2 separate regions of the Homo sapiens genome follow, and region 2 is linked to region 1. Evidence: fine-mapped expression QTL. A gene starts in region 1. The other region holds a variant in brackets. All regions are shown on one strand. Distances are from middle to middle. Region 1 holds the start of ST3GAL1 (ST3 beta-galactoside alpha-2,3-sialyltransferase 1). Region 2 overlaps ST3GAL1 (ST3 beta-galactoside alpha-2,3-sialyltransferase 1).

The links.
Region 2: its variant is fine-mapped to the expression of ST3GAL1 in whole blood (TOPMed, PIP 0.99).

The regions. Positions count from the first base shown.
Region 1 is chr8:133,563,076-133,577,134 of GRCh38, reverse strand. ST3GAL1 (ST3 beta-galactoside alpha-2,3-sialyltransferase 1) reads left to right here and starts at 5,248. Exons shown (of 10, transcript NM_173344.3): 1 at 5,248-5,442. ST3GAL1-DT (ST3GAL1 divergent transcript) reads right to left here and starts at 6,563. Exons shown (of 2, transcript NR_186509.1): 1 at 6,265-6,563; 2 at 3,279-6,077. RefSeq lists silencers at 4,499-4,558, 4,749-5,238 and enhancers at 7,029-7,248, 6,608-7,461, 7,419-7,488.
Region 2 is chr8:133,484,840-133,498,439 of GRCh38, reverse strand. All of the region lies in intron 3 of ST3GAL1 (ST3 beta-galactoside alpha-2,3-sialyltransferase 1), which reads left to right. Among named protein-coding and RNA genes, the nearest start is that of ST3GAL1-DT, 79 kb to the left of the region's middle. RefSeq lists enhancers at 1,113-1,332, 7,153-7,698, 9,176-9,959. The variant G/A (reference allele first, on the strand shown) is at 5,451.

The DNA.
Region 1 (14,059 bases):
CTTTCTGTTTTGGCTGGGATCATCGTGGGGCTGGGTGGAATACATGTGTGTGTCAGTCTAGTCTTCAATCCGGGTCATAAGAAATTTCTCTGTATCTGGTATAGACCCTTCTTAAATTGTTGATAGTCTCATTGCCTCCAATGATGCAGATAGTTTCAACTTCTGTCACTTTGTTCTTCTTCCCCAAGATTGTAGCTATGATCGAATGCGACCTACCTGCCTGGGGAGCAATAACCATCACCAATTTTCCACCTCCGTGGTCTTTAATCACTTTTAATTTCATTTCCAGCTCAATCACTGATATGGTTTGGTTGTGTCCCCACCCAAATCTCATCTTGACTTGTAGTTCCCATAATCCCCATGTGTCGTGGGAAGGACCAGGTGGAGATAATTGAATCATGGGGGCAGTTTCCTCCATCCTATTCTCATGATAGTGAGTTCTCACAAGATCTGATGGTTTTATAAGGGGCTTCTCCCTTCACTGGGCACTCATTCTTCTCTCTCCTGCTGCCTTGTTTTTTTTTTTTTGTTTTTTTTTTTTGTTTTTTTTTTTTGTTTTTTGTTTTTTTGAGATGGAGTCTCACTCTGTCACCCAGGTTGGAGTGCAGTGGCGCGATCTCGGCTCACTGCAAGCTCCGCCTCCCGGGTTCACACCATTCTCCTGCCTCAGCCTCCCGAATAGCTGGGACTACAGGCGCCTGCCACTGCGCCCAGCTAATTTTTTGTATTTTTTAGTAGAGACGGGGTTTCACCGTGTTAGCCCGGATGGTCTCGATCTCCTGACCTCCTGATCCACCCGCCTCGGCCTCCCAAAGTGCTGGGATTATAGGTGTGAGCCACCGCGCCCGGCCCTGCTGCCTTGTTAAGAAGGATGTGTTTACTTCCCCTTTGGTGGTGACTGTATGTTTCCTGAGGCCTCCCAAGCCATGCTGAACTGTGAGTCCATTAAACCTCTTTCCTTTGTAAACTACCCAGTCTCAGGCATGTCTTTCTTAGCAGTGTGATCATGGACTAATACAATCACTCAATGTGGCTTCTCTTTGGCAACATTAGCCATGGATTCTGTACGCTTAGGGACCGTGAGGAACAAAACAGCATGAGATTAAATCAAGCACAAGAGAAAATGATGCAATCGAAAAAAATGAGATGAATGAGGCTACTGCCGGTATGACACAGAATACTGTTTTACAGTAAACTCTTGGTTTTATAAGCAGAAGAAGCACACTCTAAAATGATTTAAAGTATAGTACAGTAAATATATAAGCCTGTTACATAGCTGTTTATTATCATTATCAAGTATTATATACTGTACATATTGTATGTGCCATACTGGTAGTGCAGTAAGTTTGTTTATACCAGCATCGCCACAAACACATGAGTAATGCACGGAGTTGATGTTATGCCAGCTACACCACTAGGTGACAGGAATTTATCAGTGTCATCAGAGGGGACCACTCTCATATACGCATTCCTTTTTTGACCAAAACGTCATTACTCAGTGAACGACTGTACATGTGAGAAGTGTGGCTGGGTTCTGCCAAATAGTTTACTAACTCAAATGCCTGCCAAGATTCTCAGAGTCAGGACCATGTCTCCTACACTCCCTCTAATGCATCATCTCCTGGAGGACTGTCCTTCTGCACAGTCATTCATGGGATGAGCTCAGGCTGCCTGGGCAGTCCATCCAGTATTGGATTGGTGATTCATGACTCTGTAGATGAGGCCTGTCAGTCAGATTCCTCTCCTGGAAAAACTAAAACACCTGGTGGAACCACAGTGGGAAGTGAAGCTGAAAAGATTATTTCCACAATTGCCAGGATGCAGAAAGGCTGAGGCCATAAACATGCAGAAAACTTTAGAACAGACCCCAGGATTTAACAGAGAAAGCCTGTGGGCAGAGAGAGAACAGAGCGGAGAGGGGGAGGGGGGGCAGCGGTGGGGGTCGGGAGGGAGACAGAAACACAGAGATGGGCTCTCTCTCCTTGCAGCTTGTTTTCAGCTTCAGTCTGCACATCTCTACATTAAAACTCTTTTTTCTAAAGAAACTTGAGTGAGTTCCTCACAGTCCCAAGAGCCCTAAGGAAAACACTGTCTAAAACACAAAACACCATGTGCTGTGCCCAGCACCTCTGAACTCATCTCTGACAAGTGGTGCAGCCCTTTTCTTTTCTGCACAATCACCCAAATGGGACCAGAACCCATTAGGATCTTTCCACTCTGCTGTGCCAAGAAACGGGGGTAGGGAAAGGATGAAATCAATTTCCTTAACCATCATTACTGAGAGCTTTGCTGGTGCTCCAAAAGGTAGGAGGTGGCAGCATGCAGTAAATCAATGTCAGCGCTCCCTGGAGACCCACTGTGAAGACACTCCCAGTAATGACTATGATCCTTGTTCTCTGGCAGGATGTGATGGGACATACACTCAGGGTGACAAAGAGGAATGCATGCACACACTTCTGACACACAGCCCCTGGCAAGGGTCCTAAAAGGGGGTGTTAAGAGAGCTACTTGCATGGAATGTCAAAACTCTGGAAAAAAAGGGAGAGGGAGAGGCTGTCCCTGTTACCTGGGAAGAAACTTAACAGAAAGAAAGTGGGGCTTTCAGAAAAGGCCTTGCCCAGGTTAACCCTTCAGAGATGAACTAAAGATGCATCTGATGTACAATGTTTTATTCAAATAAGGTGGTGATTTATGTGTGTTTCACCACAATGTCAATTAATAAGGAATTTCCATCTCACTATGGAGTCATCCAGGGGAACTTCCAAGACATGGTCCTGAAGCCTCCCTCCAACCCTGAGAATCTTGGTGGGATTTGCGTTAGCAGAACTGTTTGGCAGAACCCATACAATCTACACTATTCACATATATAGTCATGCATTGGATAACATTTTGGTCAATGATGGACCACATGCATGTAAGACAGTGGTCTCACAATATATTAATGTAGCTGAAAAACTCCTGTGCCTAGTGATCAGAACATCAACTCAATGCATTACTCACATGTTTGTGGTGATGCTGGTATAAACAAAACTACTGCACTGCCAGTATTGCACGTGGAATACATACAGTAAGAACTCAGCTAAAACTGAGCTGCTTTTGGTTCTTGGCTGCAAAGTGCAACAGCTGGATGACCTGGGGCTCCTTACTTGCCAAATCTGATCCTCTTTCCACAGAATCTACTAGGATATAGTAGCATAGTCTTATATGAGTATAGCATTTTCTATTTTTCGAATATGTTCCCATACATTATTTGATCCATACAATAAACAACACTTTTGTTATTTCATCCAAAAACTCTTTATTGGCCCAGACGATATTCCCAGCCAAAGCTAAAAGTCTGGTGCATGTTAGAAGCTCTTCTTTGCTGGAAGACGCTGCTGGTGGAGGGGACAGTAGCCGATGTAAGCAGAACTCTCTGCCCCCCTCCTCCCATGCACACAAGCAATCTGGAGATGCAGTGAACACCTTGACCTGAGTTTCAGAAAGAGGAAAGCCCACAGGATGTGTCCAGGCAGACAAAAGGGCTCACCCCTTCTCTAGAATTCTATCAAAAACCAAGGGCGTCAGGCAAGAGGTCTCAGAGCAGGTCCCGAAGTACCTAAAAGGCTATTCATCTTTTCCTTCCCTTTCTAGTAGTTATTTTTCTCATTCTCTCTCCTCCCCCTTTTAAAAGCTGGTTTTTCTTCTACTTTTCTCATCTCTGAATATTTCTCCTTTTCTCTCCCAAGTCCCTGAAGTCTTCCCCAACACCCTAGCCCCCATCTTCTAGCACAGGTCATCTTCCTGCTGTGGGCAGGGACCTGACACTGGAGAAACCCACCATCTACACAGCTGACTTACTACATGTCAAAGACAGTTCTAAAGGTTCTATGTGTACGAATTCACTAACTCATCACAACAGCTTTATCAGACAGACACTTCTTAGGTCGGTTCTCACAGATGAGGACACCGAGGCACAGAGTCACCTAGGCTGGGAGGTTCAGTCACTAGCCCAAGCTCACACATCCGTTGAGTGGCAGTGCAGGATTTGAACCAAGAAGTCCGGCCATGCGGGCCCTGGCCTGAATCCCTGTACTACAGCAGCCGTCTGATGAAACAAAGGCTGGGGGACTCTCCCCTTCCACTGCAAAAGGTTGATCTCTCTCCAGCTGGAGCAAGGGGCGCTGGAAGGATGCAATGACCCCAAAGGCAAACTGTGCCTCTTTCCTCTAACATTCCTCCGAAAAGTTGCGAAAGAGGTAGTCTCAGTAAGGGGTTAAGAACCGTAAAACCAGATTTACATGACTTGTGTACTGCATTTAGCATCAAAGCGCTGCACTCTGCCTTTCAGCAAAAGAAGTCTCCACCGCCCCCGCTTCCCTGTAAAAGAGGGAGGGCTGAATAACTGCAAGCCTAATCCGCAAACCCCAAGCTCCAGCCGCAGCCTCCGCATCTGGAAGGAAAAAGCGGCGGCAGGCGAGCCAGGGCAAGGGCTGGGCCAGGGCCGGGGCCGGGACCAGGGCCGGCCGCAGTGCCCGGCTCTGTGGCTCTGAACGCGGTTCTGGCCGCAAGAGTCGTCCAGCCCACGCTCCTCCCTTCCCCCTCCCTAAATCCCACCTCGAGTCCCGCGCCCTTAGAGGAAGTGGGTGGCTCTGCCCGGTCGCCAGCAGGGGATCGGCCCCTTCTCCCCACCGTGCCCCCGACTCGAGTTCTTCTGGGCACTGCCATCCTCTCGGTGCGTGCCCGTCTTCCTGCTGAAACGGACCCCAGTGGCTCCCGGGCCTCCCGGGCGCTCTTCCTTAGCCCCGCCAGCTTGAGGGCCGCGTCCAGAGAGCGGGGAGCTCCTCTCGGGGCGCCGATCAGGTCCCCGCGCCGCAGCCGCCGCCTCCGGCGTCTCCCAGGCTCGGCCTCTGCCGAGCCCGCTGCGGTCCACGTGGCTTGGCAGAGCTAAATTCGGCTTGCAGGAAGCCCGGAGCCAAGGGAAAGCCGAGCCAAGTTGGGGTGGGCGGGGCCGAACGGAGGCGCAGAGTCGGGAGGGGCGGGCACTGGGCGGAGGAAGGGGAGGGCCGCGCGCAGGGGAGGCGGTGGCTGGGCTCTGGCGCGCCCTGGCACCCGGCCCCGGCCGGCCAGGGAAGGCGGCCCCTCCTCGGTCGCCCCGCCTTTCACTCCCGTTACACCCGGGGGAAGGTGTTCCCGAGCCCTCTCCCACCCTCATCCCGCCTCCTCGCTTCCTCGGCTCCAGCCTCCGCCGGCGGAGCCCACTATGCCAGACAGTTTCGACACTTTGCAAAGACAAAGAGCCCTAGACCGGAGGGAGGAGGAGGAGGAAGAAGAGCGGAGAGAGAAGGAAGAGGCGATGTGAGCTGGGAAGGGGGCAAGTGTCCGGGACACCCACACCCCTGTATTCTCCTCCGAACCCCTTCATGCCCAAATCCCGGAAACTCCAGCGTGTCTCCAGCCGTGGTGAGTGCGCGCGCGGAGGCGAACCCTGCTCGGGGTGCGCGGGGGCTGCGTCCGCCTGAGTTGGGGCTCGGGCAGTTTCCTGTGGATTCTCGGAGTGGAAGGTTGATTGTCTGGACCCGGGAACTGAAGGGGTGGGGAGGGGACTAGGAGGGTGTGACAGTGGAGCTGGGACTGAAGACCCCGGGATTCTAGTGGAAGACATTCGAAGGGAGACCCCTTCCTTGGCAGCGGCGACCACCCAGGGCTTTGGGAGAGGAAGAAGGTCGGGGTGGAGGTTCGGGCTTAGGGGTCTTCGGCCGACACTGGAGGAGCTGCCTGGAGCTCTGTGGGGAACCTACGCCAAGTCCCGGGCAGCGGTTCCCGAAAGCAGCCCCAGTGACATTGCACCCGGCGCCGGGCTGGGATCTCCTCCGCTGGGGCCGCCCGTGGGAGGAGACCTCGCTGGGTGGCCGGGCTCAGGCGCTCTCGAGCGGATTTGGGGTCACAGGCTGGGACACCGCGGAGGCCGCCAGTGTTCTGGACGAGCGGCCGTGGGACAGTATCCGGATCGAGTCCCCCAATCCGCTGCAAGCAGGCGCAGATCCGGGAGGTGGCTATCGGCCCCGGGGACGCCGTCAGAGCGCGCTGCTCCGGATCTGGGGGTGAAGTTGACACCCGGGACAAGAGAGCTGAACGCGGCGTGGCGGACAGTGGGGGACGCGGGTGGGCCAAGGAGAGCACGGCCGGAGTCGTGTTAGTGGCAACTCGAAACTCTGAATCCGCCCCAACCCCGTGAGGCGTCGCAGCTCCCAAGAAATAATCTGACAAAAGTTAGCAACTTGCCTGTGTCTCTCGTGTGTGTGACCTGCGTGGGGGCAGGGCCACCCCTTCTGGGAGCGCACGGGGACGGACAGCGGTGACCCTGGGGCGAGGCGCTCTGGTGAGGGTACAGTTAGTTTGGAATCGGGACGGTGGCGCAACTTTCCGCTCCTCCTTTCTCTGCGCGAGTGTTTAAGCGTGACCTTGCGGGAGGAAGCGCGGCTGAACTTGAGATGGGGGTTGAGCTTGCGCCCCGGCTTGGCACAGAGACGTCGGAGCGCGCATTAGCCTGGCCTTGCAGCCGGGTCTCCCAGGAAGCGTGTGGGGATCGTCTGGCTCTGCTCGTCAGCTGGAGCCCTGACTCGCTCCTCCCTCCTACGCTAGGGTCCTCGGCGGCCGTACCATGCGCGGGGCTCGGTGGTGTGTTGGGCGAGGGGACACGTGCGCACCCAGAAGCGCGCAAGGGGGTGGGGGTTGGGCAGGTCACTGCGTCTCGCGGGCTGGGCGAGTCCCGCAGAGGGAGTCAGCCGTGACCCTGAGGGCAGTGACTGGCTCGCCGCGTCCCTGCATCAGGCATTCGCCCGGCTTTCTCGTGATTGTTTCCGGGCACCCCTGGCCTCTCCCGACTTCTCCCCCTCGCGGGTCCCCAAGCCCCGCAAGTTTGCGACGAGCTGGTTCTCCAGGGAGACAGCGAGCGCCCACCCCCGCTCTGCGGCTGGGTGTGTGTGGTGAGAGGAAGAGACGGGAGGAGGAGGCGAGGCCGACTCGCCAACGAGGAAAACGGGGTGAGAGGGGAGCCGGGTTTTCCAATAGTCGCCAGGGCGCCTGGCACGTCGTAGGTGCTAACGCAGTGTTCATTGACAAGGCCCCAAGGTGGAAGGTGCTGGCAGGGGCCCGGACGCCCCCTTCTTCCCTTCCAGTCTCTAAAATGGAGTTCAAATGTATCGACCAAGCCCTTTAGGCTTCTAGACGTGCCTGGAGCACCTACTACGTGCGGGGGCTCTACTCCTGGCCTGTTCGTAGAAGCTGCGGGCGGAGCCTCCTGATTTTCTTTACCCCGCGCTGCCCAAGCGCCCAGAGGCTTCGAAAAGGCAAGGTGCACTGCCCCCTGCCGGCTGCTGTGGAAACTGCCGCTTGTCTCTGCGGTGGGGAAGGGGCGCCCAGTGCGGGGGTCCCTCAGTGCCTTCCCGCACCTCCCCTTCCTGCCCCAAACATTAGGACCCCTGCCGGCTGTTTTCTGAAATCCCATGGTTGGCTGAAATGACTGACTAGAGTTCACCACTCCGTGCCCCTCAGCCTCTGCCAATATCTGGGTACAGCGTGGGGCCTCTTCTAGTCTCCCGTCTCTCTGTCTCTGTCTCTCTTTGGTCGCCAGACTTAACCTCTCGGCGTCTCAGTTTCTATATCTGCAAAATGAGGCCAATAATACATTCTCCAAAATACGTTCTGCATAATTGCGAGTGGCGATAATACATATAATTAAGTGAATGTGTGTATGTATAGGTAGTTCATACTCTACATGTGTGTATGTGTATACCTTGACTTCAGGTCTAGGGAAAAAAGTTCCATCGTACACTTTTTGCTAAATAAAGAATGAATAGAGGGCTCCTTCTCCTCTTGCCTTTTCAAAATCCCACAAACCCTGAAGTTTGCTTTCCCTGCATTTTTCTGGGCCGGCATTTGCTGTTTAGAGTCTGATTGGACAAGGCCAGGACCTGGGCTTGAGCAGGGCCTTTGTTGCCTACCTCCCTGGCTGGGAGGCCACAGCACCCCACCCAGGGTGAGAGAGAAAAACAGGAAGCGTTGCTAGAAGTGATGGCAGAGGAGGGTTTCTTAGGGAGTGTGGAGTCTGTTCCTCGAAGCTCTGCAGCAGCAGGCGGAAACTGCCTTCTGAGCAGCCTTCTTGCTGATTGTAATCAGGGCTGTACTGCCCCCCTTCCCTGGTGGCGCTCACAGCATTGGCTGTCGCTGATCTGGAAGCCCTTCTTATGGGGATGAAGTCGTCTGTGAGCTTGACAGGAAGGAGTCCTTCTAGGTCCTGGGTCTTTGGGGGTGAGGTAGATCTCTGTCTCCCCTCCCCACCAAGCAGCCCCCGAGCCAGGACACCACCCAAAGGCAGGCAGTTGACATTACCCAAGGAAGGGCCCTCTCCCATGTGTGACTCTGAGGCTTCTGGTCAGGTAACCTTGCTTGAGTCAGTTCCTGTGTAGAAGGTTGCTGACTCAAAGGGTTTATATTTGGGTAGAGCTTTGGCCAGGGATCTAAACATTAACCCTCACTCTAGGCCCCTCCCACACCACCAAAAGCGACCAGGAAAGCAAAAAATAAAATCCACCAGCCATCTTGTAAAAGCTTTCCAGTGAGTTCTGCATGCCTGTGTGCATACACTCCACAGGCTGATGGAAGAGCTGGCCCGGTCACAAAGAATTCTAGAATAAGACTTAGATGCAGCTTCGTTCCGTTGTGTAGACTTTGTGGAAACTTCAGCATCCCTGCTGGCACACCTGAGGAGCTGAGAGCTCTCTTCTGCTCTAATTTGGTCACAGGAGCCCAGACCGGGGCCCTGTGAGAGCCTGCATTTGAGTCCCAGTGGCAGCGCTCAGTTACTTTGCAACTTGGCTCCCAAACTATTCCAGGCTCTGGGTCTCAGTTTCACTCTCAAAATAAGAGGCTTGGCTGGGCACAGTGGCTCAGGCCTGTAATCCCAGCACTTTGGGAGGCCGAGGTGGGTGGATCATTTGAGGTCAGGAGTTTGAGACCAGCTGGCCAATGTGGTGAAACCCTGCCTCTACTGAAAATACAAAAATTAGCCGGGCATAGTGGTGGGCTCCTGTAGTACCCAGCTACTCAGGAGGCTGAGGCAGGAGAATCACTTGGACCCGGGAGGTGGAGATTGCAGTGAGCTGAGATCGTGCCATGGCACTCCAGTCTCGGCGACAGAGTGAGACTGTCTCAAAAAAAAAAAAAAAAGAGAGCAAGGCTTTAGAGTTCTGCTGCCCGTCACTGAGGGTCCATTAAAAGCTTCTCTTTGTGAAGACAGCCACCACCTGATTTATGTTTGCTTCAGCCAGCATCATCCTCAAAACCCTCCCGGTATCACAGACAACCCTGGCTTGGGGCAGCTGGACTGTCTACTACCCCATGCCAAGGGCATCTCCCCTCTCAAAGAGTGGCCAGGACCATTCGGAGCCCACACCCGCTTGGCAAAGTCATTTTCTAGCAGTTCTCAACGCTAGATTTTGAAAGCAGTCCCAGAAGTTTCAGACTCTGAGGTCTGAAACCTGACAGAGCCAGGGTGCCATCTGTGGGGACTCCCAAATGGTACATATTGCAGAAGGAACCCCAGTGATCTCACCAGGGCCTGTTTTGCTTCCCATCCACAAGCTGAACATGACCTTAGAAATCACTTTGGTCAGCCCTTTCACTTTAATGTAAAAATATTGAGGCTCAGAGGGGAAGTCACTGGACTGTAAAATCTGGGGTTTTATTGTTTATTTGGTCTTGTTATTGGTGGTGGTTGGGTTGTTTTGATTTCAGTTGAGCCAACATTTACTGGGAACTTATTACCTTCCAGGAGCACCATGCAAAGTGCGGAGATGCAGAGAGGAAAGACTACTCGGTCCTTGTTCCTTGCTGTCCCAGAGGTCACAGTGCTGTGGGGAGGGGGACAAGGACATACCCTGTCAGGCTGCGTATATAAATACACAGGTGCTAAGCAAAATGGGAACGGAGAAGGGAAAGGTTCCCTCCACCTTGAGAGACCCACAGAAGGGTGTTCTAGAGATGGATGAGTCAGACTGCAAGAGAGCAAAGATATCTTCCTGAATACATTCAATATCAAAGCATCATGTGCCCTGTGTGTGCAAAATAATAATAATCATAATAATAAAGTAAAATAAAAGATTGGCTGTAAGCCTGTTCCACATGGTTCTGAAGAGGTAAGGGAATTGGGAATTTTAGAGGTTCAGTGCTTTGGCCCCATTTCCCTCCTTAGGTCCTGATCTCTGGTTTGTTTGTGTGAGAGGAATGGTTGCCTTGCAGCCAGCCTGCAAGTTCCTACACCATGAGAGCCTCCAAGCATTGGAATGCCCGTGTATAAAACAGAGAGTGGCTGCTTTGCATTTGCCTTTTTAAAAAAATAAAATAAAACTTAGTGCTTTATTTTTAATGCTCATCCGTATACTTTATCTCAGATTTTCATAGCTGATTTGGGAGGGTGGCATGGCAGGTGGCAGGTAGGAGAAAGCGCCCAGGTTTTCAGGGGGACGCTACTATCCAGGCCGGCTGAGTGAGCTGGAGCAAGTCCCTGCATTTCCGTGAGCCAGGTTTGAGGTGCATGTGGGTGATCACCCCCTGCAATGCGGGGGATGCAGGGCCCCCAGGAGGATTAAGGGAGAGGATTCTTGGGAGAGTTGTGCATGCGGGAGTCCCAGAGCCTCCTTGATTCCAGTTGCATTAAGTCTGTTTATAAGAGAAAGTGATCGCATTCCTCAAGACAGAGCCTACGGGAGACAGAGGAGTTGACTGAAGGCAGGAAGTTTTGGAAAACTCCTGGAAAAGCACTTGAAGTAGGAGGAGGCTGATTTTAAGGTAAAATGGTTTGTGAATGATCCGCCTGGAAGCAGTAAGGCCTAATGACTGTGTTGGGGGAGCATGCTCCTCTCATTCCTATGGGTTGTGTCAAACTTTTGGCTTCTTTGTCCCTAGGGCAGGACACAGCATTACTAGTTAGCCAGAACCCTGGCCTAAGAAGCCACCCAAAGCACTGTTACCAGGAGCAGAGACACACAGGGGAGGTGGGGGGCAGCATAAGATGGTCGGGGTGCCCAGCATCATAAGCCACCTGGAGGGAGCCCTTCCTATGTGGCCTGGCTGGCCAGCAGGGATGGGATTTGTGTCAAAGTTCAAGGCACCTGCAGTGGACGCTATTGTGGTTCCCACCTGGGACAACTGTTAGAGAGGGCTCTGGAGTTGAGGTGTTTTCTACAGAGTCAGGGGAATCCCTGCAGGGAAACCACTGGCCAAGGACACAGAACTCCTGGGCCCTGGCCCTGGCCCTGGCCCATCTGCTCCGGGCCGGGGACCTTGGGCACGTTGTTTAACCTCTTTGACCCTTCGTTTCCTCACCTGGGAGATGGTAGTATAAATTCCCACTCCCTCTGTTACAGGAGAGTTAGGAGGACCCCACAAAATGAAGCACAGGAACCTGCCTTATTGATAAGAATTTTAGTAGCATCTACTTTTTATAGTTTAATGTACACCCAGTAGTGCCAAGTATTTTGAACATCTTATCATTCTGGGGTTCAGCAGGAAGCATTGAATGGAGGGTCTGAATAAAGATGTGCTTCCAGAGATGGTGCCCACATTCAGAGAAGTCAGCAGGGGATGCTGTAGCACCTGGGCCCATTTACCACCCCCAGAAGAAGTGGCACGGTAGGGGAAGGGCTAGGGGAACCAGGAGAGCATCGCAATAGTTGCCAGAAGCCTCTGGAAGAGAGAGACCACAAGGCCCCCTCCTCAACTTGGCAGGAGAGGAGCCAGGCGGATCAACCCTGCAACCTTGCTCTCCTCTGTCCTGCCCTCTGCAACTCTGTGGCACCAAGAGCTGAGCCCACCCAGCAGCCAAAGGCAGGGAGCTCCCTGATGGAGCCCCCCAGGGCAGGACAAGGTGGAGGTGGATTAGGAGCAGGCCTGGAGGAGACACACACACACACACACACACACACACACACACACACACACAGGCACACAGAGCTGTTATCTCATTTGAATCTGCAACAGCTGGGGGTGGGGAGGAGTAGTCACAAGATTACCAGTTGGCAGGTAAGATGCCCAGGAACTGGAGGGTAACCCCCTTGCCTAAGGCCACACAGCTGGTGGGAGCCCACATTTTAACCCATTGTGTCTTATCAGCCCTAGTAAAGTAAGAAGATCCATTGTAAGACATTATGAAGACCTTCAATTGTTATCAGTAGCATCTTAATGAGAAGCAGAATAGTTTAAGTGTTAAGGTTTGCCTGGGTTTCAATTGGAGGTTTATTACTTAGTGATCAAATTACTGACCTTTTCTATGTCTCAGCTTCCTCTTCTATCATGAAGGCACACTTTGTACAGTTGATGTGAAAACTAAACAAGTTTATTCAGTAAAGGTCTCTCAACAAATGTTAGTTTTGATTCCTGAGAAGGTCAAGATTTAGACAGGGCGGTGTGGGTGTGAGTGGTACTTCAACATGGCCTTTTAACCTATTCAGCATTCAAATAATATGGTTTGAATATTTGTAGGTTAAAAGTTTCTTTCTTCCAGTTATTCTGACGATGTTTGTTTCATTTCTTCTGACTCTGTGTGTGTGTGTGTGTGTGTGTGTGTGTGTGTGTATTTTCTCTTTAAAACACATGAAAGTGCCAAAGGAGAGAATGACAAGAAATTTAAAGACCTAAATTGGCTTTATTGTGATTCTAGAATTGAGCAACACTTCGTTCCACAAAACAAACAGAATAGGTTTTCCAGTGAGCTGAGCAGAGGAGGTTGGCTTTATAAACAGGACTGAAGAAACCAGAAGCAACAAAGTGTGTACTCATTACATTTAGAGAGAACACTAGAAAAATAACTGATTAGTTAACATCCGGTTACTTTAGGCTGCCTTTTTTTGTGCTAAGGATTAAAGCCGAGAGAACTTCATGATCATACCAGTTGACAATTTAATCCTGCTTATTTGAGAAATTGACTCTCTCTTGATTTCTCAGGAAGTCAGATGACAACTTAGTTTTGTCGATGGCTGTTGTAAAACCTCGGTTCTTGTCTCCTTAGTTTAAAAGAAATTAAACAAGAGACACACAGCAAAGGAGATGCAGCATGGAGCGATTTGTTGCAAAAGAGGCAGGATATTCTGAAAGTGACGTGCAGAATAGACAGTACACTCTGAGACAGGATTCAGGGCGGGCTGCTCGTGAGGATGGGACAGCATTGACTTACTGGGGAGACTCCCTTGATGACAGCCTTACACGGTTATTCATAAGGAGGCAGGAAGAGGCGCTAGCAGTAAGCATGTTCTGGGTGGTCTTCGGGGTGCACATGTGCAGCAGCTGTACCTGCTTGCTTGTATGTTACATGTCTCATTAACATCTGAAATCTCCACCCGGGAGTGTGTTTTTTACTATTATAATGAGCAAAGGTTCAGTCTGAGGACAGGTAAAATCAAAATGTGCACCCTCTTACGGGGGAAATTCCTTACTGGAGCTAGTTTGGCTTGAGTGAACTGGACTACAGTGTGAATGCTGGCGCTTATCGTGTTGACCCTGTGGTCGCCATGCCACGGTTGCCACATCTCGAGGACATGGCTCCCTTTTTGACTACCTATCCCGCCTCAGTTTGGATTTGGGGACCTGGAACTTTAGCGTGGGTAACTCCATTTTGATTCTCAGCCGGCCCTGTTGGGGCCTAGTGCGGAAACTTAGTCCAAAACAATGGCCTTCTATAATTTTTATTAAACAAATCCTATGTAATCATGTATGATTCTAAAGCCCTTAATGGAGTATAAAATATGACTTAAAAATTACTTGCAATAATTCAGAAAAGTTGAGAAGAAAAGAACATTAGCTCCAAATTATTTGGCAGAATTAAAAAGAGGGTTACAAGTGACTTTTGGAAAGTACACATTGGGGTGTACAAATAAAGTACTTTCTCTGAATTTCATTAGCTACATTAAAAAAAGAAAAGATCAAATGCAATAGATAGCACTGTAATAGATTTTGCTACATTAAAAAAAATCCATTTGAATACACAGTGAACTAAAACACCAGAGTGGCTAAAAAGTCCCTT
Region 2 (13,600 bases), 78 kb after region 1:
CATGGGCAGGGCTCATTGGAAGTTTCATTATAATCATCCCATTTTCCAGATAAGGACACTGAGGCCCAGAAACAACCACACCCCCACCTCTTGGGAGGCACAAATCAAAATGAATCTTTGCTCCCTGAGTGCTGAGCGCTTTGCTGTTTCACAGCTCACTGTCCCTGCAGTCCACATGTACTCATTGAGGGCCTACCACTGCTCCCAGCAGGCACACAGCAGTCAGGGAGTCGGATGAACTGCCTGCCTTCTGGCGGGGGAAGACAGAGGGACAGACATTCAGTCCACTGTCGAGCGCCAGTTCCTGATGAAGGCTGTGAAGGGGAATGCCACAGAACAAGTGGCAGAGACAGCGATTTTAGGGTGACCAGGGAAGGCTTCTCCAAGGAAGGCATTTGGACAGAAACGTGAATGCAGTGAGTGAGCAAGCCATATGGATTCTGGGGTAGGAACAGTTTTGGTAGAGGGAACAGCAGGTGCAAAGGCCCTGGGGCAGGGAGTGTGCTTGGTGTAACATCCCGCTCTTTGAGTTTGATTCTCTGGGTGTTTGCTCCCATACCCCACTACCATCACAGTGGCTGCTCACCTCTAGTATCCCTTCCTTAGTTACCTCCAAGTGTCTGCAGGAATGTGGCAGTGGGGTGGGGGTTGTGTAGCAAGAAAAATCCGCTGGGCATGGTGGTTCATGCCTGTAATCCTAGCACATTGGGAGGCCGAGGCAGGCGGATCACCTGAGGTCCGGAGTTCAAGACCAGCCTGGCCAACATGGTGAAACCCTATCTCTACTAAAAATACAAAAATTAGCCAGGCATGGTGGCGGGCTCCTGTAATCCCAGCTACTCGGGAGGCTGAGGCAGGAGAATTGCTTGAACCCAGGAGGCACGGAGGTTGCAGTTAGCCGAGATTGCGCCCGTGCACTCCAGCCTGGGCAAAAGAGCGAGACTCCGTCTCACAAAAAAAAAAAAAAAAAAAAAAAAAAAAAATTCCAACAAAATTGCATGGGAGAGAAGAAAGGTGTATCTCTAATAGGAAACTACTTGTCTTAGTCCTTAATCCTCTTTGCACAATTTCTGTGTTTGGTGAAGTTTGCAATGGTTTTGTCTTCTTGCTTTGCATGTGTTCTCAAAATGCCTTCTTTAACTAAGGCTGTGAGTTCACAGCACACTGCAGTCCACTGTGTCAGGCCCGTCTTTCCAGGCAGGGCAGGAATCCGGATTCAAAAACCACAGAAATAGCAGAAGAAACAGTTTTGGCAACTACACTGCTGACCTTGTGCTGAGCTCAGGGAGGGAGGTGCAGCAGGCAGACAGGGCCCAGGTAGGGGTGCAGTGGCTGACAGACCTCTGTCTTGGCACAGCCATTAGGCTCAGGCCCCTGTGTGCGGGCTCAGGTCCCTCCTTCATCACAGGGTGGTATTGGCACCAGCCTGGGGGAGCAGTTCATGGGGCTGGGTGTGCTGGAAGAGACGTGCTGAGAAGTTAGGGACCCCAGGTTCTCTCTGACTTTGTTTTCTGTTTTTATTTTGCTCACATAGATTTGTGAGTTGTTAAAAAAGAAGGGCTCCTGGGGCCAAGAACTCGGAAGAGGGGTGGTATTTGGGAAAAACAGCCCCATCCCCCTTGGGTGCCGTGGCCTGGACAATCCCAGAGCATCAGCATACCTGAGTTCAGGATTGAGCCCATTATGGCCGAGAGAGGCCCTGGTCCCCGTCTCAGGAAAGTTGCTCCGAGGCTCCAGGCGCTCTAGGAACCAGAACCCTGGGCTCCACAGCAGGGCCAGGTGTCTCCTCAGGTGCTGTGGTCTCATCTTAGTGCCACCTCAGCCAGTGTACAACCTTGGGCAAGTCACGCCCCCTCCTGGAGACTCTGAAAATGGAACAGAAAGGTGTGGTCATCTGTGTGTTCCTCTGTGATCTGGAAATGCTACAACCTTTGCTTCTAAGGCAGGTAGTAGCCAGGCATGGGGACGGGGCTTCTGTCAGCTCCCCTTTGATTTTGTAGACCTCTGGCTCTTAGCAAAGAGATGTCCTAGGAAGGAAGGGCAGTACCTTGGTGATCCTGTCTTGCACATATAGACTGGAGCTTCAGCCCATTCTCACCTCTCCTTCACCTGAGACCTGTGGCTGCAGAACCAGAAACTCATTTCCAGAAGCAGCAGAATGTCTCTCTTTCCGCAGGGCTCAGAAGTATGTATTAAGCCTTCCATTAACTGCATCTTACTCAGCTGGAAAAATAATACTCAGGATGCAATTTTATCTGATTTCTGGCCTGTAAGCTCCTGAAGGGTTCTCTTAAGAAAGGCTCAAAAAACTCCTGCGCTGTGTGACTCGGAGCCCAGCCCTGTAGCCTCCCTCCAAGGAGCAGGCAGCTCAGTGGTTGACCAGCAAGCCCATCATCATTCAGCACTACTGGGTTATCCATCTGTCCGTCTGTCAATTAAACAAGTGCTTATGAGGGCCTGGGGCCAGGGGCACATACCGAGATTACTAAGACTAAATAAGACACAGCGTGTGCCCTCCACAGCAGTTCAGGCGCAACCTGACCACTTTCTCTATTTGGTTAAACTCCAGAAAGTTCTTGACTTTATTATTCGCAGTTCAAAAGCAGCATGAGCTTTTGTGTCTGCTCCCCTTCACCCACTAAGTGTCATGACGAGCAGGCAGAACGCCCATATAGATGCCACACATGCTATGGGTTACGATATAGGACAGGAACACCGAGCTTGGGGTATCCACCATCTTGTGGCAGACAGCAAGCAAGCCAGCTTTTTGTCTCAGAGAGAAACATTACCTCATGTCTCAGGATTGGTTGCTGCAAACCCAACCCAGGTACAGAGCAGTCAGAGCCTTGCATTCTTTGTCTACCCAGCAAGATGTGTAGGAATGCAAGAAACTCATGGAGAAGTGTCTCCAAACAATGCATTAGCATTGCACATGTCTGGATTTGAATCCTACGTCTAACAATTTAAGTGCGAAATTAAGTGCGAAATTGGGTAAATTGCAATGGCTGAACTTCTCAGCCTCAGTTTCCTCTTCTATAAGATGGGGATAATGCCTACTTTCCAGGTGACTGTGAAAGAGAGTGTAGGGTCACTCGTCTGGGAACACAGTAGTGAACTAAGAAAGCCCTTGAGTTCAAGAAACTTAGTTGCACGGGGAATCCTTTCAGCTATGTATTAAGTATGCAATGCCAGTTAGTCATGTGTGTGGAAAAGAATAGAGGAGGCTGGGCACGGTGGCTCATGCCTGTAATCCCAGCACTTTGGGAGGCTGAGGCAGGCGGATCACCAGGTCAGGAGATGGAGACCATCCTGGCTAATATAGTGAAACCCCATCTCTACTAAAAACACAAAAAATTAGCTGGGCGTGGTGGCACACACCTGTAGTCCCAGCTACTCAGGAGGCTGAAGCAGGAAAATTGCTTGAACCCAGGAGGTGAAGGTTGCAGTGAGCCAAGGTCGTGCCACTGCACTCCAGCCTGGGTGACAGAGCGAGACTCTGTCTCAAAAAAAAAAAAAAAAAAAAAAAGAATAGAGGAAAAACGCAGAGGCCGATACACATCATGGTTCAGGGACAGTTGCTGCAAGGATTTGCCATGTGACCCAGCACCCTGAATTGAGTAAAGGAATGACCTTACTACCTGTGGGAAGAGCATTCTGGGCAGAGCAGATAGGCTGTGTGTAGGTCCTGTGCTTGGCCTGCTTGAGGGACAGCATGGAGGCTGAGCTGGAGTGAGCAAGGAAAAGTCGTGGAAAATGGAATCAGAGAGTAGGCAGGGACCAGTTCATGTAGGATCTTGCAGGCCTTGGTGAGAGCCTTGGATTGCATTGTGGGTGTGCAGAGAACCCACTGGAGGCTTCAGGTAGGTAGGGGCATAAGCAGAAAATAGCATGGAAGAGGCCAGGAGAGGCTGCAAGGTCTGGGATTTGCTTTTATCCTGCTGCTACTAACAAGTTAGCCTGTTAGTGTTTCATGGATCCTGGCAGAAGACATGAGATTCCTGGGTCAGGAGTGTTGTAAAGTGGGAAAGATCTCACTGCTTTTTGTGCACAAAGCCTGAGCTCAGAGGGAACTCTTCTGAGTTTGAAGGGGAATGATAACTCAGTCCATACTTTCAGAAGCTGAGCCTCAGTCAACAAATAGGAATGAGAATCTTGGAACAGATTCCAGGGCACAGTGTATCAGAAGGCTCTTATTCTCTCAGCCTGCATGTCTTACCTGCAAAATAGGGAGAACATTGCTTCCCAGGCATATTGTGGGGTCTTGTAAATAGAAATTGAATCTGAAGACCCTGTGCTTATTCTCTGCGTTAATAAGAAACAGCAAATTCTTCCTAATAATTTATCCTTCTAGGTTTTTGATTATCCCTTTTCTTCACTGAGAAGCTATTAATGTTTGCTTTGTAGCTCTAGTGCATAACACACACACACTCAGACATGCTTGCAAAATGTGCCTGCCAGCGTCTTCCTGGATAAAGGGTGGTGTTGGTCATTTAGGGGAGAAGGAGAGAGAAGAAGGTGAAAAGAGTCAGAACCCCAGAGAGGCAAGAGAAAATAGCTAGGGTGGCCTCTCTCTCTCTTTTTTTTTTTTTTTCCTGATACAGAGTCTTGCTCTGTCGCCCAGGCTGGAGTGCAGTGGCGTGATCTCAGCTCACTGCAACCTCCACCTCCCAGGTTCAAGTGATTCTCCTGCCTTAGCCTCCCGAGTAGCTGGGACTACAGGCACATGCCACCATGCCTGGCTAATTTTTTATATTTCTAGTGGAGACAGGATTTCGCCATATTGGCCAGGCCGGTCTCAAACTCCTGACCTTGTGGTCCACCTGCCTGGGTCTCCCAAAATGTTGGGATTACAGGCATGAGCCACCACGCCCAGTCAGGGTGGTTTTTCTTTAGATCATGTTTCTTCCTCCTGCCCCATTCTGTACATCTGAAGGGAGCTGAGGCTTATACACAGCATCCCCCACATGCAAACTCATGTGCACCCTCCACCCACCCCAGGATGCTCAGCCAGCTGGCCAAGCATTACAGCTGGAATTCAGATGGCGGTCTCTAGCCAGTGCTGGGCACATTCTGCCATCGCCGTCCCTAGACCTCCTGCCCTTCCAGTCTTCGTTTCTCTCCAAGACCCAAGCAGTACAGCCAGCCTTGGCAAGGCCCACCTCTTATCACTGCATTGTGGGAGGAGATAAAATGAGACTTGTGTGTTTTAAAGTTGAGCAGAACAAGATGTTTTTAAAATGCTGTGTTCCCTATGTGGGAGGCCTTCTAATGATCAGCTGGGGACAGTGCGTCCAGTCCTCCCACCCCTGGGAGGTCCCGGAAAGGACTGCAGTGTGGGATGGGAGGCACACTCCCAGTGTTGGATGCCTACCTGGTGGCCAGCTCAGACAGAGCTGGGACAGAGCTGTCTCTAGCACCTCTGGCCATGAGGGTGTTTGGCCATTCCCAGC[G/A]GTCATTCGGCGTAGCTCAGTTTATCTCTCCTGCCAGAGTCGCCTCCTTATTGGACGGAGGGTGAGGAGCACTCGTGATCACTTTGTGGGGAGAGTGGGCAGAGTAGGGCTGAGTGGAGGTGAACTCCCCCTGCCGCATGGACGCTCCCCGAGGTGGGGTATGGGCGCCATCCAGAGAGACCAGCTGAGGCCGAAAGGTAGATTCTTAGCATGAAGAGCTGGGCCTCTGGAGCCGGGCTGTTTGGATCACCTTTTATCTTATTTTTTTGAGACAGAGTTTTGCTCTGTCACCCAGGCTGGAGTGCAGTGGTGCGATCTCAGCTCACTACAACCTCCACCTCCCAGGTTCAAGCAATTCTCATGCCTCAGCCTCCCCAGTATCTGGGATTACAGGCACATGCCACTACGCCCAGATAATTTTTGTATTTTCAGTAAAGACAGGGTTTCACCATGTTGGCCAGGCTGGTCTCGGAAATCCTGACCTCAAGTGATCCACCTGCTGCAGCCTCCCAAAGTGCTAGGATTACAGGCTTGAGCCACCACGCCTGGCCCCATTTCTTCACTTTGAAAGAGAACATACCACCCCTTGGTAAAGCTGTTGAGGTCAAACAAGCAACCTAAGAGAAGTGCTGACTTGGAGCCTGGCACAGAGTTGGTGCACTTTAGGGACAGGACCCAGTGCTTTCTTCCCCAGCCATCTCCAGGACTCATGAGCTGGGGGTGCACTTGGGGAGACATCAATACTAGTATCTCAGTCTCTCCATGGTCCACGCCTCCTGACCCCCAGGGACAGGCTCTGGGAATGCCTCCTGGTCAGAACTGGCCTCTGTTCTCCCACCTGCTTGCTGGGCCTCTGCTGGTCCAAGCTGCCCAGTGTCCCCTCGTATCGTCCATCCCGAGCCTCACCAGGGCTGCCAGGCCTCAGCTGCTCTGAGCATGCCCTGACCCCGTGGTGCCGATCCTTGCCCATATGCTCCGGCCACCCATGTTTTCGCTCCTCCCACTGGACAGCTTGGCAGCCCCTGGTCAAGAGGGCAAGGTCTCCCTCCTTTCCTGACTGCTGGGCCCTTTCTGATGAGAGCTACTCTTCCTCTCCTCTGGGGCCCAGGTATGGGGGTGGGGCTGAGCCTGGGCCAGGGCAGTTTAATCCTGTGATCCAACTGGACACCGTGACACCCCTCCAACCTTCAGTGTGTAGGGATGGGATGGTTCATGCGAAATGCCTGCTGTCGCCTGACGCTCCCACCCATCCCGGAACCCTGGAGGGTGCTGCATGCCTCGCCATTGTAGTAGCTGGGTTTATAACGTGATCTTAATCCCCATTAGGGACACTGCTAGAGGCTGCCCCTCAGCTCCTTCAGGCACCTCCTGGATGCCCCTGAAAATCAGTAGCATTAAAATATTTCCGTGAAGTCACGGACTAGGGAGAAAGGGGCCTCTTTAAGCCACGTGTCAGACTGTGAATCTCGGCTCCAGAGCGGCCACACCTCCAGCCCTTCCTTTATGCTGAGGGTTTTAGAACCAGCGACAGATGCCTGAGGGCAGGTGTAAGGGGCATTAGGAGCTCTGAATTGTCTCTTCTTTATCAGCCTCCAGCACCACCCAAATGGGGGGAAATCCTTTCTTCTGGGACAGGTGTGAGCCTGGGTGCGCGCATAGTGCAACCCCTGGAATTCCCAGCCACGTTACACGCTTCTAATGTCATTTGGCTATCCTAGGACTCCAAATGTAGCACTCCTCGATCCACACACATAAGAAGATTTGTGGATTTAAATTCTTTTTGTGAGGCTATGAATATGAAAACATATTCGCCTCCTTCTCATGTGACCCTAATCCTGGTTAATCGTGTTTCTCTGGGGCACTTCTCCACACTGCCTACTCTGAGCCACTATTTGTGCTTCAGCAGAATCTTTTTTTTCCCCGACTTCCCCAGCAAAGGAACAAGCAGGAGGCACTAAGGTGCAAAGAGGAAGATTTGCAAGCACATCGAAGGGTTCTCCCAACCTGCTGGCACTGCTGGGCTGTGGGGCAAATGGGCAGGCGCCGATGCAGAAAGGAGCAGGGAAACAGGCTCCAAAGGAAACGGACTTCCCAAGTCATGCTCATGGAGACCGGGCCACTCTCTAGACTCCCACAGGGTGTCCTGTGCACCCCTCTCCAGTCCAGCCACGATGTGCCAGTTGCAATCACTACTGTCTGCTGCTCACAAGCCAGCCGGGCTCCCCTTTGCCTTCAGTCCCCAAGTCCACGTTCCTCAGGACTTCCACGATCCAGCTCCACCCACAGCAGCCCCTCTGAAGGGCGCCCTGTTTTCTGTAACATACCAGCGTCTCCATCATCACCACCATGTGCTTTTTTGGGCACAGGCCTGGTTTACCCTCCCCCTCTGCCCTCCTCCATCAGTGCTATGCCCCCTGTCTCCATGGCCACCTGCCTTACACAGCCTTCCCTCTCCCTTTGGTTGTCATTCACCTGCCACTTGTGGATCACTAAGGCCCTTGGCATCATGTCTTGGGAGGCACTGGTTCCTCCTGAGCAGATTTATGCGTGTGAACTGCCCTGGGCTAGATCCTGGAGCCGGCCTAGTGTGCGGCTTCGCTATCTAGCAGTGAAGATACGCATGCCGCCAGCTGTGTTCTTGAAGCATCGCAGGCATGCTTGGGTACCTGGGTGAGGTACGGCAGTGGAGCATGGAAGAGCAGGCTCAGGAATCGGCCCTCACCCCTTCCTAGCCATGTGACCTGGAGTAAGCCACTGATACCCAAGGGCCTCAGCATCCCCTTCTGTAAAATGGGATTATGGTGTCACCTCCCTCATAGGACCTGGAACTGCACTTTAGCTAGTCCCTAAAATACTGCGTAGTCTCTCAAAGCCCAACTTCCTTCTCTGCCCAAAGAGCAAATGCCTGCCCGAAGAGCCCCTGGGGACTTTCGCCAGGCATCCACACACAAGAAATGTATTAGCTATGGATGGGTCAGGCATGCACAGATAAGTTGGGGAGGGAGTGAGTTGGAGAGAAGGAGGGGCAGACCAGAGGCCACTAGATCTAGTTAGAGATATTCCATGGGCTTTTGTCTGCAGGCTTATCAAACAATGAGGATTCTTTGATATTTAAGCCCGGCAGGAGTCAGAGAACAACAGGAGAGGACCCAGCAGATCAAACTCCAAGAGGGGCCCAGGAGTGGGCGGTGGTCAAGCCACAGGCGCTGATTGGAGCAGCCATGGGCGGGCTAAGGGGACCTTGCCCTCTGGCTCTACTGGTGTTGACTACATTTCTATGGGAGGGACTGATGCTGTCATCAGGGAGCTTGGGGGACAGGCTTCTTGGAGTGTCCCCCTGGTGGGACCTGGAATGTGTTGAACTTGGCTGAGTGGTGCAAGGGATCCCCTGGTGCCATCCCTGCCAAAGACCCTATCAGTGTCATGAGCCTGAGGATGAAATCTCCCGATGGGTGAGTGCCCCAGCAGCAGTTGGAGCAGAGTTTGGGCAGATTCTAGCGAGAGCAGCTACCCAAGGTGGAGGGGAGGCCAGGGCTCAGGGCATCCAGCTGACCCACGTGCTTCTTGCAAATCCTCTGAGGTGGCCAGCGCCTCAGAGGGGTGTCCGGGGAGGGGCGGGAGGCATGGCTTTCTGTGGGGCACAGCTCCTGGGGCACTCATTGCTTAGACCACATTGTCAGCTGTGCCCCTTGGAGTTAGGTCTGCGGGGTCACCTGGACTGGTCATGGTGCTGGCAGGACACAAATGGTGCATTCAAAGTGGGCAGTGGAGGGGAGCTGAGTTGAAAGGTCATTCACAAGGTCATAGTGTGGTGTAGGAAACAGCAAGTGTGGTGCAGTCCCTGGGGCTGGAAATGGTGGGACTGTTTCCAACCCTAGGGCTGAAGGGACAAGAGGACATAGACTTACTGAGACCCCCAGGACACAGCTAATGTGTGGATGGGGTCATTTGACAGGAGCAAGGGACCATCAGCCCTTGGCTGTCCCACAGGGAGGGCGCCAAGGCAGTCACTGCCTGTCCCCAGTTCCCTCTCTCCCTCTGGCCTTCCTCCAGGGCTTCCTGTGGCTCCCAGGAGGTTGTCCAGACTTTAGGGGGGCCACCAGACCTTGCCTGGCCCCCCCTGTCTGCCAGTGCCGCTGCAGTCTTCCAATCCACTTGACTTTGTTTTCTTTCAGTTCGTTGGACTCACCTACTGTCCCCACAGGCCTTCATACCTGTAGCTTCCCCTGCCTGGGAGGCTCTCACACTCCCTGCCCAATCACCTGTCCACCCTGTGGACCCTCAGTCACTACCACTTCCCCCAGACATCAGCCAGTCCCTCTTACGCCCTCTGCTCGTGGCACTGAAGGCTGCCAGTCAGGGCTCTCCAGGGGAGCAGAGCCTATCCCATATTTGTGTATGCATATTAAGAGATTCAACTTTCGGAACTGGTTCAGGCAGTTGTGGAGGCTGCCAGGTTCAAAACCTGGTGGGCAGGCCAGAGGGCTGAAATCTCAGGCAGGACTTGACTTCTCTGTTACAATCTTAAGGCAGAATTTCTTCTTTTCCAGGGAACCTCAGTTTTTGCCCTTAAGGCCTTCAACCTATTGGATGAGGCCCACCTGCATTCATCTCCTTTACTTAAAGTTAACTGATTGGAGAGCTTAACCACATCTGCATGCTACCTTCCCTGAAATACCTAGACGAGTGTCTGACCAAACTACTGGACTCCATGGCCTAGCCAAGCTGGCTCATTACATTTATTTATTTACTTAGAGATAAGTCTCGCTCCCCCAGGCTGGAGTATGATCATAGCTCATTGCAGCCTTGAATTCCTGGACTCAAGTGATCCTCCTGCCTCAGCCTCCACATAGCTGGGATGACAGGGGCAAGCCACATGCCTGCTGATACATTAAATCTAACCATCACAGCTGGTCTTTTGTGTGATTCCTTAATAATCTCAGCCTCTGTCCCACCCTGTGATGTTGCTTTCAGTGAGCAAGGACGAAGATCATTCTACTTTCTCTCTCCTTTTTTTTTTTTTCGACAGAGTCTCGCTCTGTTGCCCAGGCTAGAATGCAGTGGTGCAATCTCGGCTCACTGCAACCTCTGCCTCCCGGGTTCAAGCAATTCTCCTGCCTCAGCCTCCTGAGTAGCTGGGACTACAGGCATCCGCCACCACACCCAGCTAATTTTTTTGTATTTTTATAGATAGGGTTTCACCATGTTGTCTGGGCTGGTCTTGAACTCCTTACCTCAAGTTATCCACCCTCCTTAGCCTCCCAAAGTGCTGGGATTACAGGCATGAGCCACCACACCCAGCCATTCTACTTTGTCTAACTTTTGTTTTGTTCAGCACTTGACAGCAACTGCTAGATGGCCGGAGCCCAGTGAGTAATTGTCAAATGAAAGAATGAAAGCAAGAGCGAGAATCCACAAAGGGGCTTGGCAGTGTCCAAGTCAGAGATGTTGCCAAGACAAAGTGAGATGCTGTATGTAAAGGGTCTGCATGTAGTAGGTGTGAAACTCACACATGCCATTTCTTCTTCATTTTCAACCCCACTAGCCATTATCCACACACACACATATGCAGTTCTGAATTTCTCAGAGGAATGATGATCCTGGGTAGGTGACATTTTCCTAATGTTAATGTTAATGTTAAATATTCTTTTGTGATGGTCAGGAATTGTTCTAAGCACTATATATATATATATATACCAATAGTATTGTTTCCAATATGTGTTAAATATTCAAGATTATTAGTAACATGATTGTACGGTGTGGTAGCTCATGCCTGTAATCCCAGCACTTTGGGAGGCCAAGGTGGGCAGATCACGAGGTCAGGAGTTCGAGACCAGCCTGGCCAACATAGTAAAACCCCGTCCCTACTAAAAATACAAAAATGAACCAGGCATGGTGCACATCTGTAGTCCCAGCTACTCGAGAGGCTGAGGCAGGAGAATCGCTTGAATCCGGGAGGCAGAAGTTATGGTGAGCCAAGATGACACCACTGCACTCCAGCCTGGGCAACAGAGCGAGACTCCGTCTCAATAAAAAAGAAGTAAGAAAGTGACTCTCAGGACTAACCAATAGTCATTAATTTGTTCAATTAGCCAAGTCTAGGTGAGCAGGGGCTGGGATCATTGTTGCATTTTACAGATGAGGAGCTGACTGGCCTCGGCTTCTGAAGTGGCCCAAGTCACGCTGTGCTCCGTGGCTGCTGTCCCTGGGGTTGGGGGTGGGTGTTCTCTCCTCTCCTGGGAGGCGCAGGGAGCCTCAGGGCAGCACAGTTGCTGGCTGGCTGGCTTCATTCGAGACTGATTTTTTTAATCGACATAAGGAGAGAAATGTCCACCCCAGTCCTGCCATTGACAGGGAGCTTGTCATCACCTGTTTACCTTGCAGTGGCCAGGACCTCCTCTCAGGCCTCACCTCACTGTGGCCCTGTTTCTCTTGGATGATGTTTTCTGGAGGGAAACGGGTCTGGCTCCCCTCACGGCTGATCCTTCCTGACCCAGGGGAGGAGAGCGGCGTTGAGTGGGTCCAGGCCTGGCTCGGCCATGAGAGCACAGCTGTCAGCTTCAGGGGTGACTCAGAGCGGGTGGAGCCCAGCTGGAAGGAGAAAACAAAACAAGGGAAGGGAGGGCTCACACTCGCCCCTGCCAGGCCCTGAGCTGCGCCACACACAAAGCCCACTCAGTGCTCACAGTGCCACCATGGAGTGGGGATAGGCTGGTTCCTCTTCCACAGCTCAGACAGCAAGGAGGCCCAGGGCAGGGGCCGACCTCAGCCTGGCACCATCCACTTCACACCAGTAGGTGTGAAGTTGGGATTCTGCATTGGCCGTAATCCTGACTTTACACCTACCGGCCGAGGGCCTTGGGTAGGTGGCTTGACCACTGTGGGCCTCTGTCCCAGCTCTGAAAGCTGGAGATGATACCCAGTACCTTCATCGGGAGCTTGTTGTGGGCCCAGCCAATGTGCACCGGTATTGTGCTTAGAACACAGTATAGAAAAGACAAAGGTGATGGTAGGTGTCCTCAGTGTTGACACATTACTGCTCTGTGCAGTCACCTCAAGTAGGGATGGTTTTTAACCCCCGCTTTATGGATGAGGAACTTGAGGCTCAGCAGCCCATGTAACTTCCTGGGGGTCACCGCAAACAGCCCCCCACCCCTTGTGGCAGCAGCTAAACCAACTCCCGACCTTCTATCCCCCCCAAAGCTCCACCCTCTCTTTTCAGTTGCAGCCCATGACACCTCCTAAGATCCTGCCCCTGGGAATGGGAAGAACACCTACTCCGGGGTAGCCACCCTGTAGAATACAGCAGGTTTTTTCTAAGGAGTCAAGCGGGTCTTGGGACTTGGGCATCTGGTTTTCTTTAGCCCTGGTGCACTTTTCCTGTGTATCCTTGGAAAAGTCACTTCCCGTTTCTGAGCTCAGCTTCCACATCTGTGGACTGAAGTGAGGCAGCAGCTTGAAGCGTGAGGATTTGATTCGGGGATCCAGGTGCTTATGAAGTTCTTGGAAGGGCAGTGAGAATGGGGGACCTCCAGGGTTTGGGCTGCAATGCTTCAGGTTGAGGCCCACAGGCCACGAAGCTTCAGGAAGTCAGGGCAGAATCTGCAGCTGCCCCGCTGCCTGGAGGTAGAAGAAGGCAGGTTCTGGAGTCCAGATTCTGGGGCAGCTACACAGCAGCTTCTACCACTGCCAGAGGAAGGAAGGCTCTTGCCTCGCCCACCTGCCCGTCCCAGCTATCACTGGTCAGATCTCAACTACTTCCAAAGCGCTATGGACAGGGATGCTGGGAAATGTAGTTCCCAGGCTTCCAGCCCCTGCAGTTAGGGGAAGCACACAGCGAGTGGGAACAAACTCTCACTCCTGTAGACAGTGGCCAGCATAGGAACCCCTGCTGGCAGCAAGAAACAGGGTGCCCTGAGAACCCTCGAATGCAGGCAGGATTGATGCAACTCTCAATATGGGATTTGAGCCATGTGGATTGCAGATACCACTCTAGCTTCTAGCCTTATTCGTTGATCATAGCTACAAGTTTGCTGAGTTCTTAAATGTTTCTGAACAGTCTCCCATCACAATTCCCAGTGCGTGATACCCAGGGAGCAGGGAGGGTTAAGGACATCAGCAAAGAGAAGGCCTCATCACCCAGGGTCAGC